2 linked regions of the Homo sapiens genome follow. The protein of the gene in region 2 purifies or fractionates together with the protein of the main gene of each other region. This does not show direct contact. Each region holds a gene or a part of one and is shown on either strand. Other genes may lie near its edges.

Region 1 (3,359 bases), on a different chromosome or scaffold from region 2:
GTGGTAGCGGGTGCCTGTAATCCTAGCTGCTAGAGAGGCTGAGGCAGGAGAATCACTTGAAACCGGGAGGCAGAGGTTGCAGTGAGCCGAGATGGTGCCACTGCTCTCCAGCCTAGGTGACAGAGTGAGACACTATCTTAAGAAAAAAAAATATATATATATATACATATATATTTATTTATTTATTTATTTTATTTATTTATTTAATGGCTGTACCCTATATTCTTCTTGATTTCTAGCCTTTTATTGGCTCTCAGATTGCCAGAGTTGGGACTCAATAGTAAGTAACCATTTTGTTGAGGTGGTAGTGATTCTACCAGGGTGAGTTATCATGACAGCAGAATCACTGCGTTTTTCTCTCTACTCTGTGGCATAGACTCTATGCCATAGAGTGACGTGTGAAAGGCTTGAGGCTCCCTACCTACGAGACACCCTGGTCCATTCTAGCAGTATGGCACGTGCTGACTGGGTTTTGAGTCTCTTGCTGTAAAATCACATTACTGCACTTCCCTGCATTTTCTCATCCAAAAATGGGGATTACCTGCTTTGTGGATCGGTTTGCAGATGAAATAACACACGCAGGGTATCTAGCATGGTCCCCCACATGGCACATTCAGTGTTAGCCACACTTCCATACTAACTGCCCTGCGGGGATATTTAATGAGCTCTTAAATGGCAGAAATGTTGTGTCTTTTCCTGTTCCCTTAGTATTCCTATTTTTGTTGGTAATTTTTCTTATGAACCATGCAGTTGTCTAGTTCAGGCCATTTTAGTATGCAGTTTTATCTTTGCTTCCAACATGATTTAATGTTCCCAAATTGGATTTCACATAATCCTAGTGTCCTTTGAGACTTGAATTGGTTCTAGGCCAAAAAAGGGTGAGGGGGAAGGAAGAAATTCAGAGTCAAATTTGGCAAATAATATATCCCTGTCGTTTTGTTTTTTCTTTTTAAGACTTGGGCCAGGTGTGGTGGCTCACGCGTTTAATCCCAGCACTTTGGGAGGCTGAGGCAGGCAAATCACCTGAGGTCAGGAGCTCGAGACCAGCCTGGCCAACATGGTGAAAAATACAAAAATTATCCAGGCATGGTGGCCCACGCCTGTAGTCCCAGCTACTCGGGAGGCTGAGACAGGAGAATCTCTTGAACCCGGGTGAGCCGAGATCGCGCCACTGCACTCCACTCTGGTCGACAGAGCTAGATTCCATCTCAAAAAAAAAAAAAAAAAAAAAAGACGACTCAGTATACAAATAAAGACTGGAAAGTCCTATATTAAAGGAACTAGTTAAATACTAGTTTATTTTACTTAATCTAGTGAATTTTTAAATATTTTCTTTCTTTCTTTTTTTTTTTTTTTTTTTTTGAGACAGGGTCTGGCTCTGTCAACCAGGCTGGAGTGCAGTGGCACAATCTCAGCTCACCTCAACCTCCACCTCCTGGGCTCAAGCCATCCTCCCACCTCAGCCTTCTGAGTCTGGGACTACAGGTTCCCACCACCATGCCTGGCTAATTTTGTATTTTTTGTAGAGACAGGGTTTTGCCATGTTGCAGAGGCTGGTCTCGAACTCCTGAGTTCATGCAATCTGACCACCTTGGCCTCCCAAAGTGCTGAGATTACGCCCGGCCTAAATATTACTTTCAAATAGAACCATCTTCATGGGTAGCAGTTTATAATACACAAGTAGAATTTGGGAAATGTAGTCCCAGTCTTCCATTCTTCACAGTGGATGCTTCAGCCAGTTTCCTGTCTCTGCACACACACTGCCCGACAGCGGGCTTTCCCTTCTCCTTCAGAGCAGTAGCAGTTCCCTTTCTTCATTCCCACCCATCACAGTGGCAGCCCCCTCTGCCCTCCTGTATTCTGAATCCCACCCTTATAATATGCTTAGATTTTGCCTTTCTCCCAGCCGTTTTGTGAGCATTGTTCGTGTGTACCAATTTTTTCTCATCCTTTAAAAAGAAAAAAAAAAAGCCCCTTTTCTCAATTGTACATCGCAAATCCAACTCTTGCCCTCCTGCAGTGTCAGAGGACTTGGCTGTGATGGGAATAAGCCTTGGCTCTGTTCTCCTTGCATACTTAGCCCATGGGAACCCAGTTTCTGGCCTCACCAGGAATGTTGTTGTGCTTTGAGCTCCCTGTGGCCTTGCATGATGCCTCCGTTGGTCCTTACAGGAGGTGATTGGCTGGCCACCTCACTTGCTTTCTCCTGTGGACCCTTCTTTCTCTGTCCTTCCTTGAATGCTGCCTTTGTCCCTCATGATTATGCTATCAACATTCTTCTCTTTCTGCTTTCTCTGTAACAGGTTTATTGACTCTTTTTTTTGAGAGTCTTGCTCTGTCACCCAGGCTGGAGTACAGTGGCACAATCTTGGCTTGCTGCAACCTCTGCTTCCTGGGTCCAAGCGATTCTTCTGCCTCAGCCTCCCGAGTAGCTAGGATTAGAGACATGTGCCACCAAGTCTGGCTAGTTTTTGTATTTTTAGTAAAGATGGGGTTTCACCATGTTGTCCAGGTTGGTCTCAAACTCCCAACCTCAGGTGATCTGCCTGCCTCGGCCTCCCAAAGTGGTGAGATTACATGTGTGAACCATCCACCCACCCTGATTCAACTGACTCTTAACTTTAAAAATCACATTGGTCTTACCATACATAGTTCATCAATTGTGGGAGAGAAACTTGGGTGTCATGCTTTATTTATTTATTTTTTTTTTGAGATGGAGTCTCACTCTGTCACCCAGGGTGGAGTGCAGTGGCACGATCTCAGCTCACTGCAACCTCAGCCTCCTGGATTCAAGCCAATTCTCCTGCCTCAGCCTGCCCAGTAGTTGGGACTACAGGTGCCTGCCACCACACCCGGCTAATTTTTTGTATTTTTAGTAGAGACAGCATTTCACCATGTTTCAGTCTCCTGACCTCGTGATCCACCCTCCTCGGCCTCCCAAAGTGCTGGCATTACAGGCGTGAGCCACTGCACCCAGCCTATTTTTCTTTTTTTAATAAGAGATGGAGTCTTGCTTTGTCACCCAGGATGGAATTTGTAGCATAGTAGTGTGATCATAACTCACTGTAGCTTCAAACTCAGGCTCAAGTGATCCTCTCACCTCAGCCTCCTGAATAGCTGGAACTACATGCATGAACCACTGCACCATTATTTTATTTTTAAGAGACGGGATCTCGCTGTACTGCTCAGGCTAGCCTTGAACTCCTGGCCTCAAGTGATCCTTCTGCCTTAGCCTCCTGAGTGGCTGGCTCCACTCTGCTTGGCTCTGATATTTTTCCATAAAGCCTATCATTCATTTATCATGGAGGTATGTTAATTTTGCCTTCTTAATTTCTCTCAAATTCACCTGCTCTTTGCCT
Region 2 (3,172 bases):
TAATTTTTTATTTTTAGTAGAAATGGGGTTTTGCCATGTTGGCCAGGCTGGTCTCAAACTCCTGGGCTCAAGTGATCCACCCACCTTGGCCTACCCAAGTGTTGGGATTACAGGCGTGACCCACCACGACCAGCCCATTTTACTATTTATGTATGATAGTTATTTTTTATAAGGAACTTAAATCAAGGAAGAGATAAACATCTCAGTAGACTGGCAGGGAAAGAAACACATGAATATCATGATTTCCCGAAGAAGACTCAGTGATAGATAAATATATGAAAAAAATGTTTGGCCTCACATAGAATCAATGAAGTACAAATAAAATGAAACAGTATTTTCTACTTAACTAGACTGTCAAAGATTAAAAAGAAATAGTACCCAGATTTGGCAAATGCGTTGGGAAAACAGGGATTCTTAAAACTTTAATAGTTTTTTGGCCGGGTACCATGGCTCACGCCTGTAATCCCAGCACTTTGGGAGGCTGAGGCAAGCGGATCATGAGGTCAAGAGATCAAGACCATCCTGGCCAACATGGTGAAACCTTGTCTCTACTAAAAATACAAAAATTAGCCGGACGTGGTGGTGCGTGCCTGTAGTCCCAGCTACTCAGGAGGCTGAGGCAGGAGAATCGCTTGAACCCAGGAGGCAGAGGTTGCAGTGAGCCAAGATCGTGCCACTGCACTCCAGTCTGGGAGACAGCAAGACTCCATCACAAAAAACAAAACAAAACAAAACCTTTAATATTTTTTATTTTTTTAAAAATAGAACAGGTCTCACTATGCTGACCAGGCCAATCTTGAACTCCTGGGTTCAAATGATTCTCCTGCCTCATCCTTCCAAAGTGCTGGGATTACAGGTGTGAGCCACTGTGCCTGGCCATCATAACTTGTTAATGTGAATGTAAATAAGATCAGTGTTCCTGACAGATAATTTACCATTATTTTTATTTATTTTTGTAAGATTGGTTCTCACTCTGTCACCAAGGCTGAAGCACAGTGGTGCAATCACAGCTCACTGAAACCTCAACCTCCCCGGACTCAGGTGATCCTTGCACCTCACCTCCTGAGTATCTGGGATTACAGGCATGCACCACCAGGCCTGGCTAATTTTTGTATTTTTTGTAGAGACTGGGTTTCGCCATCTTACCCAGGCTGGTCTCAAATTTCTGTGCCATTATATGTTTCGGGAAAAAAAATTTTATATATATATATATGTGTGTGTGTATATATATAGTTTTGAGACCGAGTCTTGCTCTGTCACCCAGGCTGGAGTGCGGTGGTGGGATCTCGGCTCACTGCAACCTCCGCCTCCTGGGTTCAAATCATTCTCCCTCCTCAGCCTCCTGAGGGCCTGGGATTACAGGTGCCCGCCACCACGCCTGGCTAATTTTTGGCTGGGCGCAGTGGCTCACGGCCATAATCCCAGCACTTCGGGAGGCCCAGGCAGGCAGATCACTTGAGGTCAGAAGTTCAAGACCAGCCTGGCCAACATGGTGGAACCCCGTCTCTACTAAAAATACAAAAATTAGCTGGGCATGGTAGTGGGCGCCTGTATAATCCAAGCTACTCTGAAGGCTGAGGCAGGAGAATCGCTTAAACCCAGGTGGTGGAGGTTTCAGTGAGCCGAGATCATGCCATCGCACTCCAGCCTGGGTGACAGAGCGAGACTCCCATCTCAAAAAAAAAAAAAAAGAATATTCCTATCTCTGAACTCATGGCAAGCTATTTTCCTTTAAGTTCTAGAAAGTTTCTTTGAAAGGTATGAAACTTCTGTCTCATTACTCCTAGGGATATGATTTTACATTGACAAAATTATAAAATGTTATGGTGGTCTAAAGGGACATGGTGTGTAAAGTATTTGATAATGACTAAGCCAAGCTTTTCATCTTCTAGGTCTTATTTGACTGGATGACGAGAATTGGGTACCACATATCTCTATACAGCCTTTCTACTTCCTTTCCCAGACGGCCTCTGGCAGTGGAGGGAGGCCAGTCGCTGGAGGACATAGGAATAACTGTGGACACTGTACTCATCCTGGAGGAGAAGGAGCAGACCAACTAGGAAAGAAGGGAGAGCTCCCTGTTTGCATGAAGTCAGTTATGCTATGACCTTCTGGCACAATAAAGGCTTCACTTTCAAATCACACTATACCTTGATTGAGCTCATGGCAGTAAACTTTGAACATTGATATCCATGGGAATAGGATTAGAAAAGGATTGCTTTCTATATATAATAATCTGTGGACTGTGCCATTTTACAGTGTACCAAATGAGAATGAGGTTGAAATGTATGCAGTAAGGTACTCAGTAATTAATTGGTATTTTTTCCCAGCTGACATGATTTCTCAGTGTTAGAAAACAAACCCTTAGAACTTTCCTTTCTGCCTCTTCAATCCATCTTACCACACAATATTTCATGATTCAAATTCTTCAAAGTCTTATACGCAGGAATGTTTATTCTGCTGTATTTCTGTGAAATTAAAAACTTGGAAGAAGCTTCAAAGCTCTTGGAGGCTTTAAAGTTCTTTCTGTTGGGTGTGCATTACAGTTTACTTAACTGATGTTTGCGATTTATATAATTTTGCCTTGTATTAAATGTTACAAAGTTCCAAATGAATCAGTATTTTAAAAAATAAAACTATGAAAGCATTAAAATATAGGTGAATTTTTAAAACTGTATCTATCTCATCATTTCCCTCTCTTGCTTATAAGCCTATAATGATAAAGTCATGCACTGTAACACCAAGTTCAGACACCAAATGTGGTATAAAAGGCTTTTAACTTTGTTCTACTCACTCCTTTTTTTTCTCATGCTCTGTTTTAAAAGTCTGCTCAGGCCGGGTGTGGTGGCTCACGCCTGTAATCCCAGCACTTTGAGAGGCCGAGGCGGGCAGATCTTGAGGTGAAGAGATTGAGACCAGGCAGGGCACAGTGGCTCACGCCCATTATCCCAGCACTTTGGGAGGCCAAGGCGGGTGGGCCATGAGGTCAGGAGTTCAACACCAGCCTGGCCAAGATGGTGAAATCCCATCTCTACTAAAAATACAAAAATTAGCCAGGTTGAGTAGCAGGTGCCTGTAATTCCCAACTACTTGGGAGACTGAGGCAGGAGAATCGCTTGAACTCGGCCAGCAGAGGTTTCAGTGAGCTTAGATCATGCCACTGCACTCCAGA

Evidence for each region. Proteins that work in one complex are often made in the same cells at the same time.
Region 1: the proteins of UBXN8 (region 2) and TMEM165 purify together in Homo sapiens (affinity purification with mass spectrometry, with the first as the bait; one large-scale study listed by BioGRID). This does not show direct contact.

What each region holds. Positions count from the first base shown.
Region 1 is NC_000004.12:55,419,957-55,423,315, forward strand, and holds part of TMEM165 (putative divalent cation/proton antiporter TMEM165 precursor), read left to right. Parts: intron 1-3,359. UniProt on the Homo sapiens protein: Putative divalent cation:proton antiporter that exchanges calcium or manganese ions for protons across the Golgi membrane.
Region 2 is NC_000008.11:30,764,335-30,767,506, forward strand, and holds the end of UBXN8 (UBX domain-containing protein 8), read left to right. Parts: intron 1-1,892; coding exon 1,893-2,060; 3' UTR 2,061-2,672; downstream 2,673-3,172. UniProt on the Homo sapiens protein: Involved in endoplasmic reticulum-associated degradation (ERAD) for misfolded lumenal proteins, possibly by tethering VCP to the endoplasmic reticulum membrane. May play a role in reproduction.